Linked DNA regions of Homo sapiens: region 1 is linked to region 2. Evidence: fine-mapped expression QTL. Tissue or cell type: whole blood. Region 2 holds a variant in brackets; the other region holds the start of a gene. All regions are shown on one strand. Distances are between the middles of the regions.

Region 1 (16,385 bases), 25 kb before region 2:
TCTAAATAAAAGTGTAAACATGAGGTTCAAATTTGGTAGTAACCTTTTTTGTTATTGAAATATATTCTCTATTTGTGACTTTTTAAATGACCCTGGGTAGACATCTCTTAGGTGAATCAAAAGAACTTGCTTACACTCAGTAATAGCTAAATTCACTTTTTTTTTCCTGAGGGTTTTTTTTTTTTTTTTTTTTTTTGAGACAGAGTTTCGCTCTTGTTGTCCAGGCTGGAGTACAATGGCGCAATCTTGGCTCACTGCACCCTCTGCCTCCCAGGTTCAAGCGATTCTCCTGCCTCAGCCTCCCGAGTAGCTAAGATTATAGGCTTGTGCCACCATGTCCGGCTAATTTTGTATTTTTAGTAGAGATGAGGTTTCTCCATGTTGGTCAGGCTGGTCTCCAACTCCTGACCTCAGGTGATCTGCCTGCCTTGGCCTCCCAAAGTGTTGGGATTACAGGTGTGAGCCACCGTGCCCGGCCATTTTCTGAGTTTCTATCTTTCTTGACATCCCTACACTTTTGTTACTGCTGACCTCCCTTTCTTCCTATAAGTCCTCTTGGATTTCTATGTCAGCCCACTCCAGGTATACTGGCTTTTGTTGTAGGTCTCTTTTCTCAAGTTCATTTTGTTCCTCCCTAAATGAGATGGTTTCTTCACAGTTCAGTCCTCATTCTTCTGCTTTTCTTTATAATTCTTTACTCCAAAGTGTCATCCATCCATTGAGTATCAACGGTTGCTTCTGTGTAGGGAGTCCCAAGCCTTCATCTCTTATTCTAGACTCTCACTGGAACCCCATTCCTTAATTTCTAACTAACACTAGACATTTCCTCCTGAATTACTATTTACACTCTGTCCCAAATATTTTCCCCTAGATTTCAAATCTCATGGAACCTAAAACTAAAATTCTTTATCATCTCCTATAAAACCAATGTCTTGTTTTCATGTTTCAGTTGCTATAAATGACACAATCTTGGAATTATTATATTTACCTCATTTACCACAGTTAATCAATTTCGAAGGCTATAAATTCCACGTTTATGACCTCCATCACATCAATGTATTTCTATTCATTTGAATTGCATTGGCCTAGTTGAGATCTATAATTACCTCCTGCCTAAATCTCCATAATGGACTTTCACTGCTCTTTAACTCCGGGACTTTCCCACCCCACTCCATCCTGGTCAGTGCTTCCTACCTGTATGTTTTATTTTACTTGCATTAACAGATAAGTAGGGGAGGGTAGGTGAGGCAGAGTGACAGTGGCTGTCCTTAGAACTGCACATTGACATGTGGTCCAGGCTCTGGGGAAGGGCTTAACAGAAATAGCAACACACACATGGAACACAGAGCTTCTAGTTCAGTCAATGGTTCACAAAGGAGGGAAAGAAATCAGAGGCAGGAAATCAAGATCATGGTCAATATTTGGAAGTCCAGAGAGGAAGAGAGTTCATTCTGGGAGGTCTTTCACATCCTGTCTAAATCAATATTGGCTCACAAATGGAGAGGTTGGGCTGAACAAACAAGGAGGGGCAGTGGTATCAGTGGATTCAGTTCAGAGTGAGCTATCTAAGCCCACTGCCCCTGTGCCACAGGGCAATTAAGAACAAACTCTCAGCACGCCACATGCACAGCCCCACCTCTCCATCCTTCTCCTGGACCTACTTCATACTGCACTGATTGACCTGTTCTTGATTATCCAAACCTTTGACCCTTGGGCTCATTACCTATTTATAGACTAGCAGTTGCTGCCTGTCCTGACACTTAAGCAGCTCTCTGGCCCTGAGCCTGGCTTCCCTCCTCAGTCATAATTTGTATTTACTCCCTTTGATTACATGGCTTCCCTCTCTCAGCCAAACATCTCCCTTGCACAGACTCAGCTGCAGGCCCCAACTCCCCTTTCTATAGATATAGGTACGTACAGAATTGTTAACTAGATAAGTAATTAAGTAGTGAAAAGGTAAAGAGAGAATTCTAAGGTACTGAGGAGGCAGTTACTGCAAAAACCAGATACAACCCCAAGGGTTCAGTGAGCAAAGGGACAGACTTGGAAATTTAGAAGAGGGGCCCTCAAACTGAAACTCAGACTTCTGAGGCGAGGGGATGCTTGACTGGCCCTTGTGCCTCTGAGTTCTGAGAAGCAAACTTCTAAGGATGGGGAACAATGAAGTTGGTTCTGACTGTTTTGAGATAGTGAGGTAATGCTGATTCTGCAAGTGTTGGAAAAAATGCCAGCTAGATTAAGGTGCTGCTAAAGTGATATGGCAGAGCATAACTGCTGGCCACTAGAGACTGAGAGGTCAGGGAAGACATCACCTCTATGATTAGGTGATATCTGAGCACAGAGCTGAATCACAAGGAATCAGCTTTTAATATCAGCCATGTTAAAATCTGAGATCAAAAGCACTGGTGGACATCAGTATTTGGTACCCTCTTTTTCTGGGAAGAGCTCAGGTGTTTTAAGTATTTAGAGTCAGAGGAAGTTGCTTGAGAGTCCCTTATTGTACATCCCTCTTTCAAGTATTTTACCGGGATCACAGCATAATTGATATTTCAATACATGCTGGTAAGTCACCACATTCAGATACTTTTCTTTCTTGAATATTTTTACCAGGCACCCCGTGCAGGGATATTAAATTATTATGTAGGAGCTGTTAACTCTCAGGCTTATCTCATTCTCTGGGGCATCTCCTAGTTGACTTTGACTCAGCAAACCCTTCAAAAATTATTTTAAAAATAATTATACTTTGATAGAGAGTTGTTGCAAAAAAATCTATAGGGGGGGTCCCATATACCCTTCACCCCAGTTTTCCCCAATGGTGACATCTTATATAACTATAATGCAATATCACAATAAGAAAATAAAGATATTGGTACTATCCATGGAGATTATTCAGATTTCTCCACTTTTATATGCACTTACGTGTGTGTGTAGTTTAATGCAATTTTATATAACCACTGCCACAATCGAGATACAGAAGTGTGTCATAAACATAAGGCTCCTTCCTGCTATCCATATGTAGCCGCACCTATCCATCCTACTTATACTTAACCTTTGGCAACAACTAATTTGTTTTCCATCTCTATAAATTTGTTACTTCAAGAGTGTTTCACAAATATAATAATACATGTTTTCACTCGCATAATTCCCCTGAGATCCATCCAAGTTGTTGCATGTATCCATAGTTCACCTTTTTTTATTGCTGAGTATTCCACAGTGTGGATGTACCACAGTTTGTTTAAACATTCACCAGTTGAAAAAAATGTGGGCTGTTTCCAAGTTTTGGCTATTCATGTACAGGTTTTTGTGTGATCTATAAGGTTTCATTTTTCTGGGATAAATGTCCAGGAGTGCAATTGCTGGGTCATATAGTAAGTGCATGTTTAGTTCTTGTGGCAACTGCCAAATTGTTCTCCAGAGCGCTTAACTATTTCACAACCCCACCTCCAGTGAATAAATGATCCAGTTTCTCAGTATCCTAACCAGCCTTGGTATTGTCACTATTTTTTCCAACCATTCTGATAGATATAATATGATAAGATATTCTGATATCTCATTGTGGTTTTACTTTTCATTTCCCCAATGGCTAATGATGTTGCACATGTTTTCATGCGCTTGTTTCCATCTGTATATACTCTTCAGGAAATGTCTGCTCATGTCTTTTGGTAGGCTTTTGAGAGTTCACATCCATGTCTATCAATTATCCGATAAGGTTCAGAACCCGCTCACAGCAATTCATCAATGTGCATACATAGTTTTCCCAGAGAGTTATAAGATAACATACAACATAATAGCATTTCTGATACATCTTCTTCACCAGTTTAGAAGGGCAAAATAATACATGCTCACTACAAAAAAATTAAACTTGAAAGAACAGAAAAAATACACATTGCCAAAAGTCTCACCATATAGAGATAACCACTGTTAATATTTGGTGAGCATACTTCTAGATTTCTTTCTGTATGTAAATGCTCTGCACACTTAAAAACTCACCAATTTGTATAATTAGTGGGATACTATTCTGCACCTTGTTTCTCATGAGCATATATTATCGACATCCTTCCACACTAGTATAGACTTTCATTATCATCTTAATGCCTGTATAGTAACCCACTACGTGTGTATGTTTACTTAACCAGCTTCCCTGTTAATGGATATTTCGGTCGTTTCCATTTCTTTTTGCTATTATAAACAATGCTTTAAATAGTGTTCTTGGCTGGGCTTGGTGGCTCAAGCCTGTAATCCCAGCACTTTGGGAGGCCGAGATGGGTGGATCACTTGAGGTCAGGAGCTGGAGACCAGCCTGGCCAACATGGCGAAACCCTGTCTCTACTGAAAAATACAAAAATTAGCCGGGTGTGGTGGCACCCGACTGTAATGCCAGCTACTTGGAGGCTGAGGCAGGAGAATCGCTTAAACCCTCCTGGGAGCGGAGGGTGCAGTGAGCCAAGATCGCACCATTGCACTCCAGCCTGGGTGACAAGAGCGAGACTCTTTCTGAAAAAAAAAAAAAAAAAAAAAAAAAAAAAAAAAGTTCTTGTGGGAATAATTTTTTGGATTTTTATAATTATTTTCTTAGAGTAAATCTGTGGAAGTGGGATTGCTGAGTTCGTCATATACACATGTACGTATATATATGTATGTACGCTGATATATATACACATATGTACTATGTCAGTTTGTAAATGTTTAGGAACTGCCTTTTAGAAATATTGTGACAATTTACATTTTCCCCTGCCCTGCTTAAGTAAGATTCTTTTTTTTTTTTTTTCTGAGATGGAGTTTTGCTCTTGTTGCCCAGGCTGGAGTGCAATGGTGTGATCTTGGCTCACTGCAACCTCTGCCTCCTGGGTTCAAGCGATTCTCCTGCCTCAGCCTCCTGACTAGCTGGGATTACAGGTGTGTGCCACCATGCCTGGCTAATTTTTTTTTTTTTTTGTATTTTTAGTAGAGACGGGGTTTCGCCATGTTGACCAGGTTGGTCTCGAACTCCTGACTTCAGGTGATCCACCTGCCTCGGTCTCCCAAAGTGCTGGGATTACAGGCATGAGCCACTGTGCCTGGCCTTAAGTAAGATTCTTATAAGGTTTTTACCTTTTTGCTTGTATTCCCCTTCCAGTGAATTTTTCTCTTTTTATTAAGGATTGGAACACATGGTCTAAAGAATTTTTTTTTTTTTTTCACTGTGTCACCCAGGCTGGAATGCAGTGGCACCATCATAGTTTACTGCAGCCCCAAACTCCTGGGCTCAAGGGATCCTCTCACCCTTGGAGTAGCTGGGACTACAGGCATGTGCTACCATGCCAGGCTCCAAATAACTTTTTATTGTTTAAAATTTTTAAAGCATAAACAGATGGAGCACAGGGCTCTGTGAAGTTAGATCAGTAAAAGTCCCATACCTATAAAACGGCCATCTTCTACACTTGTTCCTCCAGGACATCTTCTGCTTCAACAGCTTTGTGGTCTGCTTCAACAGCTTTGTTATCTGGCCATCTAGCCTGCTACCACAATGCCCATGGGGAATGATAAGGACAAGCAGCCCACCAATGACATTTACTTGTGGACAAAAGAATTAAGATTAGGAGAAAAAAAAATTCCAAGATTACTACCAGTACACCAAAACTTTAAAGACGAAGAGCTGTGGCATGGAAGGTATACATAAAACTGCAAGTCCTACTTGCAAAGTTAGAGATTTATTGTAAAGTTAGATGATATTGCAGTTTGGGGTCATTCAGATGCTCTCCCCCTCTTTTGTTTTTCCATTTGATCAAACAATGAAGTATAGCATTTTAATTGTGATCTAGAGAAAGAATAACATACACTGACATACTTCCTAATTTGAAACTCGAGTTTTTATGGTAGTCATTGGGCTTATTTTTCAAGGTACAACAGAAATTTGGTTTAATGGTTTAATGAGCATACCTTTTACATGATGATGTTAATATATTTTTGCTTACAAACTTCCTTAGATGGATTAAGCAATGCAAAGACTGAATGCAAAATGTTGTCTTTTAGTATTTACAAAGCATGTTCATATACATCTAACACTAGATAAGAATTCGGTTACAATATGCATCCACTTATTTCTAACTCTTCCTCAGCAGAATTTTTTTTCATTGCTTTATGCTTATACCTCTAACTTTTCAGCAACATCCCTTCCCCTTCCTCACTTCCACAAAATTTTCCTAGATCGTAGAAAACTAATATGAAAACGTTTGCAAGATACTTAAGATGGATTTTTGGAGTTCTGGAAATTCTTGTAACTTTGAATTTGCAGCGCTAGATATAACAGCGGAATTTTGCAGCTACTGTGTATCTGGCTTCTTATTAATAGTGCAATGGCAAAATGCCTCATTATGTAGAGCTCTTCCCCTTCCTAGGCATTTTAGCCTCTATTCGTTTCTCCGTGCAGGTATTCTGAAGCAGACTGTTAGCTGAATGAGAGAGAAGCAGGTGGGGTGGTAGCCAATCAGAAGGGCCAAGTTCCAGTTCTTCCACAGAACATTGGTTGTATGACCTTGCACACATCCCTAACACTTCAGCTTCATTATATTTAAGACTAGGAGGTTGGAGACCTCATAAAGGTCCTTCAAATATAAAATTATATGAAAAACATTCATAAACTCAGGTAAAAACTTACAGTTTTTGTCAGGCATTCTACTTGCAAAGGCACACCCTAAACATTTAATTTTGAAAAGTCGGTGACTATGCACAAAAAGTAGTAAAATGACACAGGAATTAATAGAAATCCATCATTATTCATTTAACGTGTAAAGAGAAAACGCTCAATGTACACTTTTTCGGTCCTGCAGATGATTAATTACAGTTCTCTAAACCTCACATTTAGCATCTCTGTGACCTCAGGCCTTTGGGATTACTTCTAAGTAAGACCAAACAGGTCGAAAGATCTGTAATTGTAATTTATTTTAGGTCAGTGGTTCGGTGGAGGCATAGGGGTCAAGGGTCCAGCACTCCCAGTATTTCTTGGAGGGTGTTCAGCAGTTTCCAGACCGGCTGACTCCAACTCTTATCTGCAGGGAAGCGTGTTACTCTTTGGAATGAAAGACAGCTCCGTATAAATGACTTGACCAAAAATGGGTGCTCATCTCAGATGCAGGGCAGGGACTATGTAACTCCATCCTCGACTCGCAGCAGGAAGTTAACTCCTCCTGAGAGCCAGGCGGTCGGAGGACCAGGCGGGGAGGTTACAGGCACCAAGACACCCAGGCTGGCTGGACCCTCCCACCCTGTAATGATGAGGGGAGATGCTCCCTGGGACAGCCCCCTTGAAGCTTCTGGCGACGGGGCTGGGATCCGCCCACCCTTACTCAGGGGCGAGCCCTGTCATACGCGTGGAAGCGGCCACCACCTTCTAGGGGGAGGGGCGTTCCCGTCGGGCGTAACCGCCCCGCCCTGGGGGGCCGCTGGGGACGCTGATCTGCAGGAGGGGGCGGGGTCGGAAAAAATCCGGTAGCTCCAGACCGGTGTCCCGTTGCCAGGCGATGGGGAGGAGGCGGGGCCGACAGGAAAGAGGAGCCGGGCTCGGCGCGAAAAGGGCACCCTCCAGAGCCGCGGCCGCGCAGCCGCCTTTCCTCCCTCTCAGGGCTGCGCGCCCAGGTCTGCGCCGCGCTCCGCCTCCAGCCGCGCGCAGACTTGCGCACGCGTCGTGAGAGCGACCGCCTCCGTCTCTCGCTGGGCTCGCTAGGGCTGCGCGTTGGGCCAGCGGGGGCGCCGCAGCTGAAGCCGCCCCGGAGCCGGTGAACCGAATTACCTCGAGGGAGGGGCGTGGGGAAGGCGGCGGGAGGAGGAGCGCACGGGCCGGCTGCCGTGCCCACCACGGCTGAGGAACATGGTTTTCGAGTCGGTGGTCGTGGACGTGTTGAACCGGTTCTTGGGGGACTATGTGGTGGACTTGGACACGTCCCAGCTCTCTCTGGGCATCTGGAAAGGTAAGGAGGCCGCCGCCGCCGCTCCCCGGCCTCTCGTGCTTCCCGGCCGTCTCGCTGCCCGAGCGGCGTCCTGCGTTCTCGGGGCTTCGAGCACCTTGCTCGCCGGGTGCAGCCACCTGCCGCCGCCCGCCTGTGGGTCAAGTTACGTAAAGCCGGGCGGCAGTTCCCTGGCCTCCGCCCTCGAGTTGTTTATATTTTGGGGGAAAGGAGAGGGTCATGAGTGCGGGATGAAAAGGTCTATATTTTCCGAGCGGAGCGGACTTGCCGTGGGCTCCGTGGGTCTGGCGTTCAAGTCCCGGCGAGGGGCCGTTCTCTACCCCTGGCCCCGCACGGTCCGGCTTTAGCCGCGCGGGGCGAGGAGGCGAGACGACGCCTTCCTGGGCTGGGTCCCATCCCTGTCCTTTGCCCCCCTGGGTTTATGACGAAGGCCCCAGAAATCCCCCGCGTGTTGCATGCTGCCTCGCACGTGAAGGCAGGGCGCTGTGACCGGGGACGCCCGCTTCCTTGCTTCCCCAGCCTCAATTCCTGGCTTCACCCGTGGTGCTTTCTGCTCTCCCCCTTCCGGCCCTAGGACCCGGACGCCGGCTCTCTCTCGCCTGGGTTCGGCGGATAACAAAAAGGAAACTCAAGTGCAAAGTAACTCAAACAGTTGCTTGTGTGGTTGCAGTTAACAGCCTGACCTAGGAATGTGTAACATTTTCAAGACTTTAGGATATGTGGGTCAGAGTGAATTGCCGAATTTTAAAGAAAAACCAGGGCGTGCGGTGCAACGTCTCAGACCTGCAAAAGACCGGGCTGAACAGGGCCCTACGCTGCCTAGGTGGTGAAGGACCGAGCTTTCCTTGTGTCCGTTTAGTGTGGTATTCTGCCTTAGTGAGAGCCTCATTTTTAGTGTTTCCATCTGTTTTTGCATTATGCGCTTGTTTATTTTAAACACCCGCTAGAAATTAGACTCCTTTGTGAAATGAATTTCCCAGGCCAAAGTGAGGGTTAATTTTGTGTGTGAAGTGTGTGTGTTTAAATATATATTTAAAGTAATTTATTCTTGTCTGTGCACACACTTCCAGTCTTCTTCTAAAATACTTACCTTGACTCTTCTCGTTTATGAGATAATGTAAACAGGTAGTTTAGTTTGATTTTAAAGAATGTTACTACCGTGGGGACCTAGTATCATGATGGAGAGTGAGTGGACTACAAAAGCTAGGGATATAGTGATAGCTGCTCAGCCTGTTTGATTAGTACAAGAAACTTGCAGTCTGTTTATGCTGCTTCTTAGTTGCAAAGTGAAAATAAAATTTGTCTCCCATGTACCTCAGAAGGAAGCCTTAAGAATACTTGAGGTGAACTTTGATCTGTAGTGGAGTCTTGCTTCCACATTCAGGGTGGAGGTTTGTCTAGAGTGTGATTAATCAACTTATTTATTTGTTTAAAATTTACATGCAGTAAAATTCACTCTTGTGATACAGTTCTGTCTTGACAAATGCTAAGAGGCATGTATGCACCACCACAATAATGGCACATAAAAGGTTCATCAAGCCTCCCGAATTCTCTCAGCTGCTCCTTTGCAGTTGATCTCACCCCGCCACCACGCCCGGCTAATTTTTAGTAGAGAGGGGGTTTTGCAATGTTGGCCAGGCTGGTCTCAAACTCCTGACCTCAAGTAATCCGCCTGCCTCTGCCTCCCAAAGTGCTGGGATTACAGGCGTGAGCCACTGCGCCCGCCTGACTGTAAGTATTTATCTGTTTGCTGGTTGAAGAATATTTCAGTTTTTGGAGGTTATAAATAAAGCCGTCATAAACATTCACGTACGGGTGTTTGTGTGAACATAATTGTTATTTCTCTTGGATAAATACCTAAGAGTGGTTTTAAATTGGGTTGTACGTTTTTTTTTTTTTTTTGAGATTTATTTCATATACCATAAATTTCACTCTTTTAAAATGTACAATTCAGTGTTTTTTAGTATAGTCACAAAATTGTACAACCATCACCACTCTCTCATTCCGGAATATTTCAGCACCCCAAAATTAAATCGTATGTCCATTAGGAGTGACTCCCAATTTCCTCCCTTCTCACTACTCCACCTCTGGCAACCACTAATCTTTCTGTCTTTATGGATTTGGTAATTCTGGACATTTCATTTAAATGGAATTATATGATATGTGGCCTTTTGTTTCTGGCTTCTTTAACCTAATGTATTTTCAAGGTTCCTCCATGTTGAAGGATGTATGACTATTTCATTTGCTCTTAGGGTTGAATAATATTCCATTATATTCATAGACCACAATTTATTTATCTATACTCACCAGTTGCTGGATGTTTAGATTATTCCTAAACATCCACCTTTTGGATATTATGAATAATGCCACTGAACATTCATGTACAAGTTTTTTTGTGGATGTATGTTTTAAATTCTCTTGGATATATACCTAGAAGTGGAATTGCTGGGTCATATGCTGACTTTGTGTAACCTTTTGAGGAACAGCCAAACTCTTTTTCCAGAGTGTTTGTTTTCTTATGGTTGAGTTTTGAGAGTTCTTTAAATATTAAGGATACAATTTCTTCATCAGATATGTAATTTGAAAATACTTTCTCAGTCTTTTCCCATTTTGTCTTTTGCAGAGCATACATTTTTGATTTTGGGAAAAGCCCAGTTTATAAAACATTTCTTTTATGAATCATGGCTTTTGGTATTCATATCTAAGAAATCTTTTCCCAACCCAAAGTCAAAGATGTTCTCCTGTGTTTTCTTAAGGAAGTTTTGTAGTTTTAGGTTTTGGATTTCTTTTTGTATAAGGTGTGTGATATGTGTTGAAGGTTGAGGTTCATTTGTTTGCATGTGGATGCAAATATCCAATTGTTTAGCACCACTTGCTAAGAAAGAGGATCCTTTCTCTATTGAATTATCTTTGCATTTCGTAAAAAAAAAATCAGTAGACTTAATATTGTGTGGCTTTAGTCTGTCTCAATCTGTGTGTCTATCATTTCACCAATACTACACTGTCTTGATAACTGTGTCTTTGTAGTTAGTCTAGAAATCAGGTAATGTGATCCCTCTAACTTTAGTCTTTAACAAATAATTTAAAAAATAACAAGTCATTGTCCAGGTGTGGTGCTCATTCCTGTAATCCCAGCACTTTGGAAGGCTGAGGCGGGAAGATTGCTTGAGCATAGGAGTTTGAGATTACAGTGAGCTCTGATCATGCCACTGCATTCCAACCTAGGCAACAGACAGCGAGACTCTGTCTCAAAATAAAATAAAATAACATGTCAGTGTTTTATTTATAGAAATTGGTTATGTTTTGATAAATGAAACTTTAAATAATAGCTGGAGTATTTTTTTAAAATATTCTTTGAGAATTTCAAAAGTAGTAATTTGATAAATTTGGAGGATTTTTTAAAAACATTGTTTGAAAATTTCTGTAATAGAAACTAGGTGGCCAGGCATAGTGGCTCATGCCTGTAATCCCAGCACTTTGGGAGACTGGGGAGGGTGGATCACTTCAGACCAGCCTGGCCAATGTGGTGAAACCTCATCTCTACGAAAAAAATAAGATACAAAAATTAGCTGGGTACTGTGGCGCTCGCCTGTAATCCCAGCTACTCAGGAGACTGAGGCAGGAGAATCACTTGAAGCTGGGAGGCATAGGTTGCAGTGAGCTGAGATCACACCATTGCCCTCTAGCCTGGCCAACAGAGCGAGACCCTGCCTCAAAAAAAAAAAAAAAAAAAAAGAAACTGGATGCTGCATAGGAAAATTTTAAGATAATATTTTATGGTCTAACGTGAAGGACCTATTGGTAGTTGTAAATGTGTGCTTTTGCTAGGCTTCTGAAATAATCCAGCAAATTTCAATATTAGCATGTTACTATAATAGTATCAATTAGTATTCAGTCATTGCTAATAATGGATGGTGCTCTGAAAATTTGTTGCTGAGATGGATTCTTTGGAAATCAGAATGCATTTTTCCCATGGAAGCATTCTTATATATGAATGAGGACTTTTCCAAAAACCTGTTTAACTATAATGCAGCAGAAGAGTGCTACTGTACTGGGTTCAATACAGTAAGTAGACTCACTGCTAGAAGACTCTGTCTTACAGGGGATGAAAAAGGAATTGAGCTTCATTCCAGGACTGACTCTTGGCAAATTTTGATGTTGGTAAGGTATACTTTTTATACACTTCTATTTATAATTCTCCCTTCCCATATATCATCTAGTTAGAGAGGTGGTAATATTTCATAGACTCATCTGAAATTTATCTTCCCAACTTTCTCCAGCAATTTTCTTTTTCTTTTTCTTTTCTTTTTGAGACGGAGTCTCGTTCTGTCACCCGGGTGGGAGTGCAGTGACGCGATCTCGGCTCACTGCAACCTCTGTCTCACGGCCTCAAGTGAGTCTCCTGCCTCAGCCTCCCGAGTAGCTGGGATTAAAGGTGCCCACCATCATGCATGGCTAATTTTTGTATTTTTAGTAGGGACGGCATTTCACCACGTCAACCAGGCTGGTCTCGAACGCCTGACCTCAAGTGATCCACCTGCCTTGGCCTCCCAAAGTGCTGGGATTACAGGTGTGAGCCACTGCGTCCGGCCATTTCACATATTTTCTTTAAGAGCTAGGCTGCATCAGAATCAGCCATAGGTGCTTATTATGAATACAGAACCTGCCCCCAGAGATTATAAATTATTTATCTGGAGTAGGACATGAAAATATTTTTTTAAACAAATGACACTGGGGACTTGATGCACAGTTGGGTACATTTTAAGAGAACATTAAGGGGAAAAGTATTAGAATTTTAAATAGACAAAAGCAGTAGTAAAAGTGGCTTGTGTGATAGAATTATCATTTGTAACACAGGAAGTACCTGTACTTCATAGCCCCTTCTTAAGTTAGCCTCCTTTGTCTCTATTTTGTTTTCTCCGAAATCACAATACTTGGACAAATTTGTAATTTTTTTTTGATAATGCCTGACATCTTTATGTAACATTAGAAGTTCAGATTTCTTGTCTATTAACTAACATACGTATTCTGTTTTTGAAATGTTAATCTCCCAGTTTTCCCTTTATAATAGAATCATGTGTTTAGTGGCCACTTAGCTGGATACCGCCATGATACCAGAAGCAGTACAAAAGATGAAGATTCAGTTAGGATACAGTTTTCGATTTTTAAGGAGTCATTCTTCTGTGCCCAGAATACACTAGGGAGCCAAACAAATGATTCTTACAGTCTGGTGTTAATGACCAATTCTAATTCCTTATGTATTATTTTTATATTTATGTTCTAAGATACTTTAATAAAACTTTAAAGACTATGAAACATTTTATTATAAAAAGTGTTAGGAGATTTTACAGTGCCTCTCCATATACCCATTATCTAGATTCTGTCATTAATATTATGTATTAACAGCTTTATTGACGTATAATTAACATGCAGTAAAATACACGTTAAAGTCTACAATTTGATAAGTTTTAGCATATATGTGCATGCAGGTAACAATCATCACATGATAATGAACATATCTGTCATACCTAGAAGTTTCCTTGTGCCTTTTTGTAAACCGTATCTTCTAACCCTCCTTGTCCCTTATACCCTTCTTGTCCCCAGGTTTTTGCTGATTTGCTTTCTGTTACTGCATATTAGCTTGAGTTTTCTAGACTTGGATAAATGGGATTGTACAGTTTGTATTCTTTCAGTCTGGCTTATTTCAGCATAATTATTTTGAGATTCATCCATGTGGTAGTACAATCAATAATTTATTCCTTTTTATTGCTGACCATAGCAAGTGGTGGTGAGGATGTGCAAAAACTGGAACTCTGTTAATATGTCTCCTGGGGATGTAAAATGTTAAACAACTTGGGAAAACAGTTTGGCAATTTCTTAAAAAGTTAAACATACATCAACCATGTTATCAAGCCATTGTGCTTCTACATGTTTACCCAAGAGAAATGAAAGCATATGTTCATACAAAGATTTGCACACAGATGTGCATAGCAGCTTTATTTTTAATAGCCCCAAATGGGAAACAGTCCAAGTATCCACCAACAGGTGAATGGATAAACAAACTGGCATATCCATATAATGGAATACCATTAATATTTAACCACACATGTTTTGTCACATACCTGTCCATCTGTCCATCTCTCTATCCATGCAGCAATTCATATTATTAAATGTATTTCAGAATAAGTTGTAGAGATGAGCTCATTTCCTCCTAAATACTTCAGCATGTGTATCATTAGAGTGCAATATTTGCTTAGTTTTTTTCCTTTTGAGGTAAAATTTATGTAGAAGAAAATATACAAATCTTAAGTGTACATTGACTGAGTTTTGACAAATACATACACACATGTAACTCAAACCCAGTCAAGATATAGAACATGACCATCACCCCAGAAAGTCTTTTTCCTGACCTTTCCTAATTTATTCCTACCCTCATCTTCAGAGGCAACAAATACTCTAATTTTTTTCTTTCTGTCATACATACACATCTATTCTGCTTTGCTGAGAGTGTTTTCTTTTCCTTCAAGAATGTTGGAGCCAGGCATGATGGCTCATGCCTGTAATTTTAGCACTTTGGGAAGCTGAGGTGGCCAGATCAGTTGAGGCCAGGAGTTCGAGCCCAGCCTGGCCAACATGGTGAGACCCTGTCTCTACTAAAAATACAAAAATTAGCTGGGTGTGGTGGCGGGCACCTGTAGTCCCAGCTACTTGGGAGGCTGAGACACGAGAATCGCTTGAACATGGGAGGCGGAGGTTGCAGTGAGCCGAGATCGTGCTACTGCACTCCAGCCTAGGTGACAGAGCAAGACTCCGTCTCAAAAAAACAAAAACAAAAGAATGCTGGATTTTGTCAAATGTTTTTTTCTGCATCTATTACTATTATCACAGGATTTTTTTCTTTTTTAATCTGTTGGTGTGATACATTACATTAATTGATCTTTGAATGTTGAACTAGCCTTGCATACCTAGAATAAATCCCATTTGGTCATGACGTGTATGTTTAGCACTCAGTATCTCCAGGGGTTTAGTTCCAAGACCTGTGCAGATACCAAAGTCCACAACAGGGAGGGCATGGAAGCTCCCCACCACCTTACTTTGCTCTGTCCATCTCTTTATCTGTATCCTTTGTAATATCCTTTATGATAAACTGTTAAATATAAGTATTTCCCTGAGTTTTGTGAGTTATCCCAGCAAATTATCAAACCAAATAAAATCAGGTGCGAACCCTGATTTATAGCTGGTCAATCAGAAGCACAGATCACAGCCTGCGACTTGTGACTGACATCTGAAGTGAGGGGCAGTCTTATGGAACTGAGCCCTTACCATGTGGGATATGACATTATCTCTTTTTTTTTTTTTGAGACAGAGTCTCGCTCTGTCGCCAGGCTGGAGTGCGGTGGCGCAATTTTGGCTCACTGCAACCTCCGCCTCCCGGGTTCAAGTGATTCTCCTGCCTCAGCCTCCCGAGTAGCTGGGACTACAGGCGCCTGTCACCACACCAGGCTACTTTTTGTATTTTTAGTAGAGACGGAGTTTCACCATGTTGACCAGGATGGTCTTGATCTCTTGACCTTGTGATCCACCTGCCTTGGCCTCCCAAAGTGCTGGGATTACAGGCGTGAGCTACTGCGCCCGGCTCGATATGACACCCTTTCTAGGTAGATAGTGTCATTATTTAATTGAATTATAGTTAGTGTCTGTTGGAGAATTGTTTAGGGATTGGGGGAAAAACTTCACATATCTGGTTATCTAAGGGTTCTGTGTCGAATATGAGAGTAGAGAGAAAAACCTTTATTTTCCTTTGACAGTGTCTTATCATATTTATAGCTGTTTTCTGTTTTGTTATACTTGTTTCCTTTTTAAACAGTCTTCCCCTCCTCTTTTGCCCTCTCTGGTTTTAATTGATCATGTGATATGATTTAATTTTTTTCTCCTGTCTTAGCATACCAATTATGCTTCTTAAACAATTTATTTAAGTGGTTGTATTACAGTTTGTGCTGTTCACTTAAAACTAGTCCAAGTCCACGTCCAAATAACATTATAGGTCAGGTATAGTGGCTCACGCCTGTAATTCCAGCATTTTGGGGGACTGAGGCTGGCGGATCATTTAAGGTTAAGAGTACGAGACCTGCCTGGTCAACATGGTGAAACCCCATCTCTACTAGAAATACAAAAAATTTGCTGAGCATGGTAATGTGCGCCTGTAGTCTCAGCTACTCAGGAGGCTGAGGTATGAGAATCTCTTGAACTGGGAGGCAGTGAGCCGAGATTGTGCCACTTCACTCTAGCCTGGGCGACAGTGCGAAACTCTGTCTCAAAAAACACAAAAACAAAAATCCCACTATACTACTTCATGGAAAATGGAGGTAGTATATGTAATACTCTATCTTACAATACAGTATACAGATTCCTCCCTTCTGCCCATTGTAACATTGTTGTCAT
Region 2 (16,385 bases):
ACCAAAGCTACCTAGAGGTGTGTGGTGAGCTTTGGGAGATGGACATACCTGGCCATGCTCCACTGCAGCCATTCCCACACCAGGCCTTCTGGGCTCCGTGCAGACTGGAGTCCTGTTTCTGCCAACTTCCCAAGCAGCTGTCTTTGCAACCTCAAATGTCTGTAGGGGTCATGGAGCCTCCTTCAGCTAGGATTCTAGAGGTCCATGACAAGAACAGGCTACTCCATGCCTGTTTAACTCATCCTTTCCCCAGGAGCATTTGGGGTCAGAATGAGTCATGGTGCTAGGGGAGCTCCCTGTAAGGTTCCCAGCTTTCTCCTCCTTCAGCCCAGGATCCGCATCCTCCTTCTGTTCACTCTCAGTGCCTTCCTTCCAAAGATCTGCTCAGAGTGTGCTGGTCTTCTTGATGGCCTGGTCTCTTGGTGGTGGAAGCTCTTCCTGACTCTGTGTCTACTTGGCCACCCTGACTCCTCTCTGTTGTCTGTTCACTGTATATAGTGTCATGTGAGGAATAAAAGTTTTAACATTTGACGAAGTCCAATTCACCTATTTTTTTTCTTTTGTTGCCTATGCTTTTGGTGTTATATCCAAGAAATCATTGCAAAATGCAGTGTCACAGAACTTTCTCCCTATGCTTTATTCTAAGTTTTATAGTTTTCAGTTTTACATTTAGCTCTTGGATCCATTTTGAGTTAATTTTTGAATATGGTATAAGCCTGTCACACAGGCTGGAGTGCAGTGGCGCAATCTCGGCTCACTGGAAACTCCGCTTCCCGGGTTCACGCCATTCTGCTGCCTCAGCCTCCCGAGTAGCTGGTACTGCAGGTGCCCGCCACAACACCTGGCTAATTTTTTTGTATTTTTAGTAGAGACCGAGTTTCACCATGTTAGCCAGGATGGTCTCCATCTCCTGACCTCGTGATCTGCCTGCTTCGGCCTCCCAAAGTGCTGGGATTACAGGCGTGAGCCACCTTGCCCAACCTATTGATCTTTTTAGAAAACTAACAGTCGGTGTCCCGGTGCAGTGGCTCACGCCTGTAATCCCAGCGTTCTGGGAGGCTGAGGCGGGTGGATCACTTGAGGTCAGCAGTTCGAGACCAGCTTGGCCAACATGACAAAACCCCGTCTCTACTAAAAATACAAAAATTAGCTGGGCATGGTGGTGGGCCCCTGTAATCCCAGCTACTCAGGAGGCTGAGGCAGGAGAATCACTTGATCCCAGGAGGCGGAGGTTGCAGTGAGCTGAGATCGTGCCACTGCGCTCCAGCCTGGGCGACACAGCGAGACTCCGTCTCAAAAAAGAAAAAAAAAGAAAACGAATGCTTTATTTTTATTTTTATTTTTTTTCCATTCTCTTTCACTTATCTTTGCTCTGATCTTTATTATTTTCTCCCTTCTGCTAGGTTTGCATTTTGTTTTGTTTTTTTCCCTATTTCCTTAAGGAATAAATTTAGGTGGTGATTTGGGATGTTTCTTCTTTTTAAACATAAACAGTTACAGCTTTATGTTCCTTCTAGCGCTGCTTTTGCTGTATCATACTAATTATGATGGTACAGTCTTTTTATTTTCATCTCGATATTTTCTAATTTTTCTTGGGGTTACCTTTTTGACCCGTTTCTTATTTAAGAGTGCTTAATTTTCATATATTTGTTCATTGTTCTGTTTCCATCTGTTATTTCCTTATTTATTTTATTTATTTATTGTTACTAGAAAAGATACCTTGCATAACGTCAATCTTTTATAATTTTACAATTTTGTTTTTAATTGACATGTATTGTGCATATTTATTAGGTACAGGGTGATGTTTCAATACATGTATACATTGTATAAAAATCAAATTGGTATTTAGAATATCCATCACCTTATACATTCATCATTTCCTTGTGGTGAGGACATTCAAAATCTTTCTTCTAGCTATGTTAAAACATGCAATACAGTATTGTTAACCATAGTCACTCTGCTGTGCAATAGAACACCAGAACTTATTCTTCCCATCTTACTGTAACTTTATTCTCATTGACCAATCTTTACCTATTTCCCCTCTCGCCAGTATTCCCCAGCCTCTGGCAACCACTATTCTATACACTACTTCTATGAGATGTCAACTTTTTTAGATTTCACACGTGAAATCATGCAGTATTTGTCTTTCTGTGCCTGGCTTATTTCCCTTAGCATTATGCCTTCCAGGTGCGTCTGTGTTGCTGCAAAGGACAAGATTATATTGTTTTGTTTTGTTTTTTTTTTTAAATGGGGAATAGTATTTCACTGTGTATATATATACCACATTTTCTTTAGCAGTGCATCTGTTTGTAGACACTTGATTTCATATCTTGGCTTTTGTGAAAAGTGCTGCAATAAACATAAAGTCCAGGTTTCTCTTCAACAAACTGATTTCATTTCTTTGGGATATTTATACATTAGTGGGAATGATGGATCATATGGTAATTTTATTTTTAAATTTTTTGAAGAACTTCCATAGTGTGTTTTATAATGGCTGTACTAATTTATACTCCCAAAAACAGTGTGTAAGAGTTTCCCTTTCTCCACAGTCACACCAGCATTTATTTTTTTGTCTTTTTGATGATAGCCAGTCTAATAGGTTGAGGTAATATCTTCTTGTGGTTTTGATTTTTATTTATCTGATGATGGGTGATGCTGAGCCTTTTCTCATATATATACCTGTTGACCATTTGTATGTTTTCTTTTCTCTTTACAAAAATTTTGACACTTGTTTTATGACCTCACATATATCCTGGAGAATGTCCCATGTGCACCTGAGAAAAATGTGTATTCTGCTGTTGGTGGGTGGAGTGTTCTGTATGTGTCTTTTGGTCCAGTTGGTCAATAGTATTAAGTCCTATATTTCCTTATTAATCTTCTGTGTGGTTGTTCTGTCCATTACTGAAAGTGGGGTATTGAAGCCTTCTACTGCTAATGTAGTGCTATCTGTTTCTCTCCTCAATTCTGTCAGTGTTTGCTTCATATGTTTTGCTGGTCTCATGTTTGGTGCATACATGTTTATAATTGTTACATCTTTTTAGTGAAGTGTCGGTTTTATCATTATATAATGCCCTTCTTTGTTTTTTGTAACAGATTTTGACTTAAAGTTTATATGTCTAATATTAGTATAGGTTGAATATGCCTTATCTGAAATGCTTGGAATCAGAAGTGATATGGATTTTGGATTTTTTTTTTCTTCAGATTTTAGAATACGTACATATACATAATGAGATATCTTGGAGATGAGACCCAAGTCTAACACAAAATTCATTTATGTTTCAAATATACCTTGTACACATAGCCCAAAGATAATTTTATACAATATTTTAAATAATTTTCTGCATGAAACAAAGCTTGTGTACCTTCAACCATCAGAAAGGAAAGGCGTCACTGTCTCAGCTGCCCATGTGGACAATCTGTGGTTGTTTGGCATCATCGTTATTCTTGACTGAATTTATATGCTGATCAGCAATAATTTTCTCACATTTATTCACACGTAAGTTGTTAACAGTAAGACATATGAGGTACCATTAATTCAGTGAAAATACAGTGTGTTCAGGGTGAGTAAGCAGCACAGTAGCATCACTGGGAATATATGTATCCACTGTTAAACAGCAGCAGCAACAAACAGTGGCAGGCAGGCTCTCAGTCTCCACCTACAATGCTGTGTTTTGATTAAAAGGTAACTGTAGAATGTACTGTATTTATTTATTTTTTTTTTCAAGTGAGAAGAAACATTAGAAGCAGTTGAGGGGCCCGGAATTGGATCCTCAGGGGATGAGGAGGCATTTTGCTAGATGGCTTTTAAAAATGTTTCCTCCAGAACCATCTGCCTCACTAACTCTTTTTTGTCTGAGAAGTCTCTGATTTTATAAACTGTCATAATTTATTGTTCTGTTATGAATGCCTGCTGCTCCAGTCCTTTAATAAGCCCATCACACATTTTCACCATGTACCATGTGGTCTATAGGTACCTTTTTGCATTGGTAACATCATCATCTTTATCTTCATCATCCACTTGTGGTATTATGTCTGCACTCAGAAAGTTTCCGATTTTGGAGTTTTGGATTAGTGATGCCCAGGTATCTTTGCTCTTTTGGTTATTTTTGCATGGGCTTACTTTTTTTTAAATCTTTTTGCTTTTGACCTATGAGTGTCCTTAGAGCCAAAGTGAGTTTCTTGTAGACCACGTACTTTTATTTTTTTTGTCTCTCTCTCTTTCTCTCTATTTATTTATTTTGAGATGGAGTCTCACTCTGTTGCCCAGGCTGGAGTGCAGTGGCGTGATGTCGGCTCACTGCAACCTCCGCCTCCTGGGTTCAAGCAATTCTCCTGCCTTAGTCTCCCAAGTAGCTGGGATTACAGGCATGCACCATCACGACCGGCTAATTTTGTACTTTTAGTAGAGATGGGATTTCACCATTTTGGTCAGGCTGGTCTCGAACTGCTGACTTCAGGTGATCCACCTGCCTCAGCCTCTCGAAGTGCCAGGATTACAGGCGTGAACCACCGCTCCCGGCTGGGATCCTGTTTATTTTAATCCATTCTGCCAATCTGTCTTTTTGTAGGAGAGTTAAGCCATTTATATTTGAAGTAGTTACAGATAGGGAAGGACTTAATATTGCCATTTTGCTAATTACTTTCTATGTGTCTTACAGCATTTCTTCTTTCTGTTTTACCCCTTAGTGCCTTTCCTTTGGTTTAGTTAATTTTTTATAGCAACTTTGATTCATTTTGTGTTTAATTAACTAATAACATAATTAATATTAACATCAAGATAGCAATGAGGTCTCGCTGTGTTGCCCAGGCTGGACTTCTAGGCTTGTGTGATCCTCCCACCTCAGCCTCCTCAAGTAGCTGGGACTACGGGTGCCTGCCACCATGCCTGGATGACTTTTGTGTATGTTCTAAAGGTATTTTCTTTGTGGTTACGATGGGGTTACATGTAACATCCTAATGTTATAGCAGTGTATTTTAAACTTTCATTAATCCCATTACCTGTATGTTACAGCTTTTGCAATTGTCCTATAGTTCTTAGACATTCTGTTCTATTATTTTTCTCATTTTCTTTTTTTATTGGCTTTGAATTGGGAAGTTTTTATTTACGTATCTTGGGGCTTACTGATTTTGCATTAAATAATTTTTTCTCAATGGTTTATTGCAAGTATATTTAAATGTAGTTTACTTTTTGCATGTTGATCTTGTATCATGCTACTTTGTTAGACTCATTTGTATAATTCTGATTAAAATGTTTGTATATATTAACATTGAGCTACAATTGCAGAGGTCAAAAGATACAATTAGTGAAGATTTGGTCAAGCATACTCTGTTAGACTATGTAGAAGAATGAAGGTGAGATAATAAGATTATAGGCAGATTATATTATCTGTTATGCACATTATTTATATATTTTTCCTGATTATGACAGGAATGAAGCATACATATTAACTTTTTAAAATGAAAAATATTTGATTGTTTGAATCTTTTTTTTAATCTTTTTTAGGAGCTGTGGCCCTCAAGAATCTTCAAATTAAAGAAAATGCCCTGGTAGGTTTTGACTATGAAAAATTTGTAAAGTTATTGCATTTAATTATGTATAATTCTTCCTGATTCAGTTTGTCACCTTAAATTATTTAAATTTGAGAAAGTTTTTTGTAAATAATTTTTGCAAAATGTAAATTTTGCTAAATGGAGTTTTAATCTCCCTGAAAGCACAAATGGACAGTGTGATTTTTTTTCTATTTAAAAATACATATTGTTTTAGGCTGGGCATGGTGGCTCATGCCTGTAATCCCAGCACTTTGGGAGGTCAAGGCAGGTGGATTATTTGAGGTCAGTAGTTCGAGACTAGCCTGGCCAACATGGTGAAACCCCATCTCTACTAAAAATGCAAAAAGCTTCGCCAGGCATGGTGGTGGACGCCAGTAATCCCAGCTGCCAGGGAGGATGAGGCAGGAGAATCGCTTGAACCCAGGAGGTGGAGGCTGTAGTAAATGGAGATCGTGCTACTGCACTCCAGCCTGGGTGACAGAGTGAGACTCTGTCTCAAAACAAAACAAAACAAAAACAAACATACAAAAAATACAGATGTTTTTATTTCAAATTTTTAACTTGTTTTCTGATTTTTTTTTTAAGACAGGCTCATGCTGTGTCACCCCAGGCTGCAGTGCAGTGGTGTGATCATAGCTTACTGTAGGCCTCAGCTCCTAGGCTCAAGCTGTCTTCCCCTTTCAGCCTCCTGAGCAGCTGAAAAGTTTTTAATCTGATAAAGACTAGTTCATTTTTTTAATTGCTTGTGCTTTTATTGTCATATTCAAGAAGTCTTTACCGAATCTAATGTCGTGAAGATTTTCCCTTATGTTTTCTTCTAAGAGTTGTATAGTTTTAGCTCTTAGGTTTAGATCTTAGATCCATTTTGAGGTAATTTTTGTATATGGTATAGGATAAGGGTTCAGTTTCATGTTTTTGCGAGTGGATATCTAGTTTTCCTAGCACCATTTATTTAAAAGGCTATTCTTTGAATGGGGAGAACGTTTTGAAAGTTTATTTTTTACAAAACGCGTATTTTGCAAAATAGAGTTTTAATCTCCCTAAAAGCATAAAATGACATTGTAATTGCCACTTCTTTTTCTTAAAATAATATAAAATTGGTAATGATTTGATATGAGTAGATTTTCTGGTCATTTTTACTGTAGACCTTTATCCCCAATTATTATTAAAAGAGCAGCTTCCCTGGATTTTATGGATTTGATAGTAATATTGCAGTTATATGTTTATATATTTAAATAAATGTTGATGATAAGGAAATGTGTAAGTTTATTAAAAAATCCCTTGAAATAATTTTTGGAAGTAAAGAGTATTCATTTATGTTGTTAAACTCTATATCTACTAATGTTTTGTGTATATATAAATTTTTTCTGTAGAGTCAACTGGATGTACCATTTAAAGTTAAAGTTGGTCACATAGGTAAGCCATATTCATTATTGGGATATCCTCCTTCCTGGACATGCAGCCAGAATAATTTGCCTAATATATCTATTATGTGATATTTTTCATGTTTCTGAGCATCAATTAAAAATAATCATGTGTTTTTGTCTCAGTAGAGCTTTGTTGTGCAACTTAAAAATATTGTCCGATACATATATCCCTTGCCTAGTATTTGATATCCTAATACATTACATATCTCTTTAGGTGGTAAATTGAGTTAATTCAAAGGATTACCTCTAAGGGAGAGCTTAACTGTTTCAGTTTCCTAGGTTTCTGTCTAGTTACCACTGCTATATTTTGATTAACATTGGATATATTGTGTAAAGAATAGGTTCTGCATCATCCAGGCCCTGTGACTAGGGGCCGATTTGAAAACTAATTTCTGCTCTGCAAGTTTTTGTATGGTTTCAGAAAATACTGTGCTTTTTCTTGTTTGGTATTATTTTTACCAGTGTTTACTGTTTATATCTTAAATATATTGGTTGAGCAGTAAATGATTGGAATTTGAGGTTTTAACATCTTTAATAAAAACTTATCTGTCATGTTTCTTGTGTTACAGTTTTACTGGTTTAAATATTGTGCAAGATAATAGTGTCTTTAGTTGGGACTTGGAGATATTTTTGTTATATAGATAGTTTTGTGGTAGGATGTATACATTGTTATTGAAGCTATACTGTTGTCACTTGGGGAACAAAGTATTCTGAAAGGTTACCTAGATTACATGATAAAGGTCTTCATAATTATGTGTACTTATGGTTGGTATTAGACCACATACCATAGAAAACTTTCATCATCATATGTTACTGACAGTAGAATTCTATCCTCCCCACTCCTACCTTTTAAAGACTGTTTACTGTAAGAGGGGGAGAATGTCACCCATTTTTATCTACCTAACATTTTAATTTTTTCATATTTCTGATTATTTACATGTGTACATTTTAAATACTTACAAGTTTATATGTATTGAAATACTTGTAATTATGCTATTTTTACAGTTTTATATTTTTTCATTAGC[G/A]TATAAAAAGGATTTCTCATAATCTGAGTTGATTTGATCTCATTTATTCTGTACCATAATAATCCAGTGAATGCATATTTGGATATTGTAGAATAATTTTATTTTTCCATTGGTACAGAAGTATTACAATACATATTTTTATATAACTTTTAAACTTTTACCAAAGGTCATTGAATTTTACAGTGATGATTGTCGTATTTCAGTGTATGTAAATTTAACCTCAATTCAAGAACAGTCAAAAAATATATCAGGAGAGTAGATAGACTATTTTCTTTAGAATCTGCCCGCCTTCTCTTTTCTTGCCTAATCTTGTTTAAAAATGATAAGGTAATTTTTAGTGATAATATAAGATAGTAGAAAGTACACTGAACTAAACCCAAGATAATTTTGAGAGTCATTTAAGGTGTTGTGTACCTCTGTCGTAGCACCTGTCTTTTAAAAATATCACTGTTTTTTCCCCCTTCTAGTAGACATCGAGTTTCTTGAGAAGAAGTGGGTTTAATTTTTAATGTATCCTCACCACTTAGCACATTACTTGGTATATATAGTAGGGGCACAATTTATTGTATGAAAGTAATACATGTTTCCAAATGAATGATACAGTAGTACAATCAGTTTTATAGGAATGTATGTCCCCTTGCTATTATTGGGTATTGATCTTTCAAAATTTCCCTCGTTTAGAATGCAGAATTATAGATATATCAAATATAAATACACATGTACATATTATAAAAGAGGTTGTCTTCTGTGGAAGGTTTTTGGAATTACATCTGTGTATTTTTTTGAAATTTGCCAAATTTTCTACTAGGAGTCTACATTTTATAAGGGAAGGAAGAAAAGGTTTGTTTGTTTGTTTGGTTTTTGAGACAGCATCTTGCTCTGTTGCCCAGGCTGGAGTACAGTGGTGCGATCTTGGCTCATTGCAACCTATGCCTTCCTGGCTCAAGTAACCCTCCCACCTCAGTCCCCGAGTAGCTGGGACTACAGGTGTACGCCGCCATGCCTGGCTAATTTTTGTAGTTTTTGTAGAGACAGGGTTTTGCCATGTTGCCCAGGCTTGTCTTGAACTCCTGGACTCAAGGGATCCTCCTACCACAGCCACCCAAAATGCTGGGGTTACAGATGTGAGCCACTGCGCCTGGTCAAGTTTGGATTTTTTAAAAAAACATTTGTGGTGAAAATGGCACACTGTTAATATGTGTTTATTATTTTTACAGTTTTGTAATTGCTCTTTGTCCTTTTGTTCATTTACTTTTTTTGAAGTATTACTGTATGTATTTTAAGCAGTCTGTTGGTACATTTATAAATAAATTAACCGTGTCAAATTTGTTACAGTTTTTTCACAATCTTATTATTTCATTTTGGTTATATTTTTGGTCTGTACAGAAATTTGAAATGATCCCCATGTTCTCTGGTTTAAAAACTTAGAAAGTTATTCCTCTTTTAGAAATCAGATAGTTTAGAGGCCGGGCAGGGTAGCTGATACCTGTAATCCCGGTACTTTGGGAGGCAGAGGCAAGAGGATTGCTTGAGGCCAGGAGTTTGAGACCAGCCTGGGCAAAATAGTGAGACTGTGACTCTACAAAAAATATAAAAAAGAAATCAGATAGTTCATTTTTCTCTGAAGTGATATTATATGATGAAATCTTTTTCTCAGTTTGAAGTTTTCTACACATGGAGTTTATAAAATATCATGAGATGGATCTAAGTGGATTTAAAAAAATTTCCCAATCACTAACCAGTTTTAGCAACATAGTATATTTAATAATCTATTCCTTACACAATTATGGCAGCTGTATAAATCTAGACACTCATACCATTTAAACAATTCTAAAATATTTTAAAACTCTCTATTACGAAAATATTCTCAAGATACAAAACTAGAGTGAGTAGTATAAGAAACCCCATACATAGTGTTTTTGTAGTTCAAGAACCCTTACGCTTAAAAAAAAAATTCTTTGCTGTTTGATTTTCTTAGGATGTTTTCATTAGTTTGCATAATTTTCAAATATTACCCAGAATATTTTATTATTACTTTATGTGTAGTTTTCATATATATAGTTTATATGTATGATTATTACCATATGTGTATATGTGAATTACTATACATACATACATACGTATGTAACACACATATACATAATGAAAAATATACATACACACACTTATTTAAAGTATACAATCTACCTTTCATTGCGGGGAGGTAAAGGTCTCACTCTGTCACCCAGGCTGGAGGGCAGTAGCATGATCATGGCTCACTGTAGTCCTGACCTCCTGGGCTCAAGATCCTCCCACCTCAGCCTCCCAGGTAGCTGGGACTACAGGCACATACTGTCACGCCTGGCTAATTTTTTTAGTTTTTATTCATAGAGACAGGGTTTTGCCATGTTGCCTAGGCTGGTCTTGAACTCCTGGGTTCAAGCGATCCACCTGCCTTAGCTTCCCAAAGTGCTAGGATTCCAGGTGTTAGCCACTGCGCCTGGCCTAATCTACCATCTTAAAGCATTAAAAAATATAGGTTTAGAGTAAGAACTGGGGAAATTCAAAGTTATGATATTAAGGATTGTTGATTAAGGGAAGAAGAACATTGTTTTGTTTATGGTACAGAGAACTGTAAATAGAAACTTGTATATTTCGAATATAATCTAGGTTTTCCAACAGTACTGATATAAATACAATAATTTCAAATCATTACAACAAACACTTGTTGTTTGTAGTTGTAAAATAGCTTTCAATAAAGTGATTAAACGCTTAAGGACAAAGGCCACTTTATTATCTCTTCAATGCCTGACAGAAAATAGACTAACCATAAATGCAGGTTGAAGGAGTAATATTTTTTGTCCTTTTTTTTTTTCCCAAAAAAATGTAGGTAATCTTAAACTTATAATTCCATGGAAAAACCTTTATACTCAACCTGTTGAAGCCGTATTGGAAGAAATTTATTTACTTATAGTGCCTTCTTCTAGTAAGTTAAATTTAAAAAAATTATAATTTAAGTTATTCTTTTTTATGGATGGAAAAATATTTATATTCAAAATACTTTTGGAATTTTTTTGAGATTTTAATATTTAAATTTGATATTTGTTAATTCAAATTAAATTGGTTTTTACTCTACATTTTTGGCAACTTTGAATTATTTATTATTTATTTATTATTATTTTTTTTTAAGATGGAGTCTCGCACTGTCACCTGGGCTGGAGTGCAGTGGCACCATCTCAGCTCACTGCAACCTCTGCCTCCTGGGTTCAAGCGATTCTCCTGCCTCAGCCTCCTGAGTAGCTGGGATTATAGGCGCCTGCCACCACGCCCAGCTAGCTTTTGTATCTTTAGTAGAGATGGGGTTTCACCGTGTTGGCCAGGCTGGTTTCGAACTCCTGACCTCATGATTCGCCCAGCTTGGCCTCCCAAAGTGCTGGGATTACAGGCATGAGCCACCGCGCCCGGCCAATTAATGATTATTTGTAAGGATTTTTTTGGAATGACTATATTTAAATTTAAGGTAGTTATGATTCTTCCTTTTTAATCTTCCTATAGGAATAAAATATGATCCTTTAAAAGAAGAGAAACAACTCATGGAAGCAAAGCAACAGGAACTGAAAAGAATAGAAGAAGCAAAACAAAAAGTAGTTGATCAAGGTAAAGAAAACAGTAAATAACAATGCTAATAAGAGAAGTAGAAAAGACCTAAATATTTATCATAATTGAATATTATTTTTCTCTGGAGATGCTGAGATTATTTCAGAAATATGATAGAATCTCATTGCATGGGGAATTTTAATGTGGTTTGTATGCTTTGTTATGTGTACAGGAATTTTACCTTATGGAAATTTATCTTAAGGCAAATAATATGTCTAGCTTATTATTATTATTAGGTTTACATATTTTTTATATATATATATATACACACACACACATATACATACTAGGTAAGGTCAGTTTTTAATGATAGCAATTAATTTTATCAAGCATATTTTCTTAATTTTCTAGCCTTTGCTTTTGTATTCCTTTTATATCAATTCTTCACCCTTTTGGAGATACTTAGTTTCTTGACATATTTCTATTTGCCTCTATCTGTTTATTTACCCTCTGGCTTCACATATTTTCCAATTAAACTTAGACAATATGTTCCATTACTGCAACCTCTTTTTCATTATTGGAAGCGGTGTCCTGAAGAAATCTAATTCCTTTTCACCTGTTCTCTGATCCTTACTGCCAGCTACTTTTTAAACTCTCACCTAGTGGGTTTTTTGCCTTGGCATGTAAATACGCTGTTCTTTATCTTGAAACATGAAGTCATTTTCTTAACCTAGTCATCTGTTTATGTTCTTCTCCTCTGTCATTCATTTAATAGTTAAACATCTTAAAATTAAAAAGTTTACTGACTTCACTGTCTCTGAAATGCATTGATTTTCTTTTAATAAAAAATAATAAGCTTCAATAATGTTTTACTTGTTGGCAAACATTAATAGAGATTTAACATGTAATTCTTGGCAATATCTCTTGTAATTCTGTTTTTTCTCTGTAACAGTTACTTTATATTATGTGTAGTCATTTATCCTTACCTCCAGTCCTCTTTCCTAAGTCTCTTAGGCCTTTTCTTTTTAAAAATTATTTTTATTTTATCAAGATAATATATATACATAGCTTTAAAAGTTAAGCAGTATTATAGTGTCCGGATTAAAAAAAAAAACCAACTGTTCCTGGCCCAGGCCCGCACCTATATTACTAAATATGGTGCTCAAACCTCTGTGTCTTGATTTATTTAGATATTATATATATATATATATATATATATATATATATATATATAAAACGTGTTATATGTAACATAACATGCATATTATCTATAACATAACATATTTTATAACATATAATTAATGACATTACATATTTTAAACTCATCTCGTGTTTCATTGGCATATATATGACATATATAATATATAACGTGTAATATATATATTACACACACATCCTTTTATGATGTACTATGAAGATTGACCCTATTTTTTCATCTTCTCTATATAGTTCTGTCACATTTTTGGTTAAATCAGAATTCATTGTTAATAGTATCATGGCTATATATAAATGTTTTATTTATATATAAATAAAGTGGCTTTAAGTATGACTGTTTATTTTGTAGGCTTTTAGTTAACCTCCCTGTTCTCCCATGTACAAAATTTGGATCCTATTAGGGCCATTTTCTCTAAAATAAACCCTTGTGTTCTCACTAGGGTGGGAAAGGGATGTTGCTTGGATATTGGGCTGGGAGAGAAGGGGACCTAACTTAACTGCTCCTTATACAGATTTAAATCAGTTCTTGTGTTATCTTCCTCTCTCTCCACTGTGTTCCATGTTTGCTATTTTTTGTTTGGTGGGGTTTCCAGTTCCTGTGTCTTTCCAGGGTTCTGTGACTTGGATTTTTGTTGTTGTTGTTGTTTGTTTTAAACTCATCTTGTGTTTTGTTTCATTACCCTGCAAGATATAGGCATTGATATGCTTTTCATGTAAAATGGATAGTTGGTTTTATTCAGGATTGGTACTTTATTGACAGTAATATGCAAAAAAAGAGCAAAGGGATTTAAGGTGTTGGTAAAATAACATATCATGGAATCTGAGCTGCATAAGGAAGTCAGGAGGAAGTAGTGGGTAGAGAAAGAAAGACAACATTTAATCGAATGACTAAATGAATTTATAAAAGAAAAGATTTTATTAGGTAGTGGTGAGAGTCAAAGATTAAAATATGATCCTCTGTCTTTAAAGAGCTTGTATTCTGTTGTCTACTTAATTCTATAATCTATTTATATGTATATATATTCATTTAACTCTGGTGTATTTGAGGTACATATGATTAGTATCTTCAGCTTTCCTTTATCTAAGGCCTCCTGGGCCAGCTGAATTTGAGAGTAATAGGCAATTAGAGGAAAAGATAGATTTATATGTATTATTTCTATATAGGAGTAGAAATATGAAAAGAGGAACAGAATTAGAAATAAAGAATATAGCTTTCATTGGCATTTTTAAGGGGAGAAAAAGGATAATAACTATGATTATCAAAGGCATATTTCAAAAAAATTAGGAACCTCAATTCTTTATTCTTCTTTATTCTTGGTTTTTCTTTTTTTTTGAGACAAAGTCTCACTTTGTCTCCCAGGATGGAATGCAGTGGTGTGATCTCGGCTCACTGCAGCCTCCACCTCTCTGGTTCAAACGATTCTCCTGCCTCAGCCTCCCAAGTAGCTGGGACTACAGGCATGGACCACCATACCTGCCTAATTTTTATATTTTTAATAGAGACGGGGTTTCGCCATAGTGGCCAGGTTGGTCTAAAACTCCTGACCTCAGATGATCTGCCCACCTTGGCCTCCCAGAGTGCTGGGATTACAGGTGTGAGCCACCTTGCCCCTCCAATTCTTGATTCTTTCTATTTCTTTGGAAAGTAATGGAACTTGAGATAGTTAATGCTGTTTTCTGAACATGAAATAGTTGATGAACTTCTTTCATCCTTGTTCAAAAGAAGAAAGAAGATCTTATTTCCTATTTTGTATTTACTGGGGGAGGAGGATATTCAACTGTTTTACACATCTATACACAGGCAACTTAATGGTGGTATCACTAATTTTGAGAGAGATTTCTGCTTTGCTGCTGTTAGTGGATTTTCTCATTTAAGTCTATTGTAATTCTTACCCAATAATCTTCATTTTTAAATATATTTTTGTACTCAGGCATAGGTTAACAGAAATTATAAAATTTAATGCCAGTAAATTCTACATGGTCTGCTTTAGTCTCATGGCACAATAAACTAGCTTTTGAAAAATGTTTACTTGCTTTTGAAAGACTTTTGGAAAGCAAGCTATTAGTGTTCTATTTACATATATATGTATATTTCAGCAAGGCAACGTAAGCATGTTACTTCAGTATGTGGATATTTATAGAGTATATTTTTCATTCAATTTTAAAAAAGGAATATTTGCAATTGTAGAACAACATCTGCCGGAAAAACAGGACACTTTTGCAGAAAAATTAGTTACACAGATCATAAAAAATCTTCAGGTGAAAATTTCCAGTATCCATATTCGTTATGAAGATGATGTAAGTATTTTAATATGTGATATTTGTTTTTATATTTATATGTAAGTTATTTTACTATTTAATGACACCTACTTTTTAATGGCCAATCTGTTAAATCCCAAAAGGTTACAGAGCTAAAGATGATGTGATCCTTCTTTTCTATAATTATAGTTGTAATTTGCAGTCCTTAGTGTTGAGTGCTTGATTTTACACTTTCCCAAAATGTTCAGACATTAGATCATGAAGGAAATGCCTTGGGAATTATGAATTTAGCAGTTATGTATTTTTAAAATACTTTAAAGTATGCTATATTTACCTCCTGGATGGAGTACTGGTCTAGCAATTAGTGGAGCTAGCCTTAAATAATTCCTTGATCCTGAATAGGTCATTTGTTTTCTCTTAACCAGATAATTATTTGCTTTATAATCCTATTTTGTTAGTCTTTTTTAATAATTTTTTTTGTAAACTGGAAAACATGCAGTATAATATTCCTGTGTAACACGAATACATTAATAATTAGTATTCTAATTTGTTTTAGGAAAAATATAGGAATGAAAGTTTTTCTGGAAAGTAATAAAATGTTTCTGAATGTTTGAAATAAGTTACTTCCCAAAAAGTTATCCCTCCCTCCCTTCCTCCCCCCACCTCCCTCTCTCTCTCTCTCTCTCTCTCTTTCTCTTTCTCTCTTTCTTTCTCTTCTCCTCTTCTCTCCCCTCCCCTCCCCTTGCCTCCCCTTCCCAAGACAAGGCCTCACACTGTCGCCAGGCTGGAGTGCAGTTGCCCGATCATGACTCATTGCAACCTTGACATTCCTTGCTCAAGTGATCCTCCCACCTCACCCCCACCCACCCACCCTGCAGTAGCTGGGACTACAGTTGCACCCCACCAGGCCTGGCTAATTTTCTTAACATTTTTTTTTGTAGAGGCAGGATCTCACTGTGTTACCCAGGCTGGTCTCCAGAGCTCAAGCAGTCCTCCTGCCTTGGCCTTCCAGAGTGCTGGGATTACAGATGGGAGCCGCTGCACATTGACAGTTTTTTCTATAAAGTGGATTTTATCCAACTACTAAAAATCTGAATAAATTTTACTTTCTTTCCTCTTTAGATCACAAATCGGGACAAACCGCTGTCATTTGGTATTTCCCTTCAAAATCTGAGCATGCAGGTATTTTGTTTATAAAAGAATCTTAACCATATTTAATGTGCAATATAGTCTATTAAACTGCTACTATTTGTATATGCCAGCATCAGAAATAGGTGTCTATGTAGAACGGGTGCACAAAGGGTCTTCATTGGATTGGAATCGAGGGTATGTA

Evidence for each region. PIP is the estimated chance that this variant, and not a neighbour inherited with it, causes the effect.
Region 1: VPS13A starts here. The variant in region 2 is fine-mapped to the expression of VPS13A in whole blood (TOPMed, PIP above 0.99).

Annotation. Positions count from the first base shown.
Region 1 is chr9:77,169,859-77,186,243 of GRCh38, forward strand. VPS13A (vacuolar protein sorting 13 homolog A) reads left to right here and starts at 7,676. Exons shown (of 72, transcript NM_033305.3): 1 at 7,676-7,946. The coding sequence starts at 7,847. VPS13A-AS1 (VPS13A antisense RNA 1) reads right to left here and starts at 8,059. Exons shown (of 2, transcript NR_026668.2): 1 at 7,769-8,059; 2 at 6,898-7,048. RefSeq lists silencers at 1,215-1,509, 7,304-7,633, 7,395-7,689, 8,672-8,841 and enhancers at 1,215-1,509, 7,395-7,689.
Region 2 is chr9:77,194,442-77,210,826 of GRCh38, forward strand. VPS13A (vacuolar protein sorting 13 homolog A) reads left to right here. Exons shown (of 72, transcript NM_033305.3): 2 at 5,504-5,547; 3 at 6,924-6,966; 4 at 10,872-10,967; 5 at 11,537-11,638; 6 at 14,982-15,091; 7 at 16,175-16,234. Among named protein-coding and RNA genes, the nearest start is that of VPS13A-AS1, 25 kb to the left of the region's middle. The variant G/A (reference allele first, on the strand shown) is at 8,003.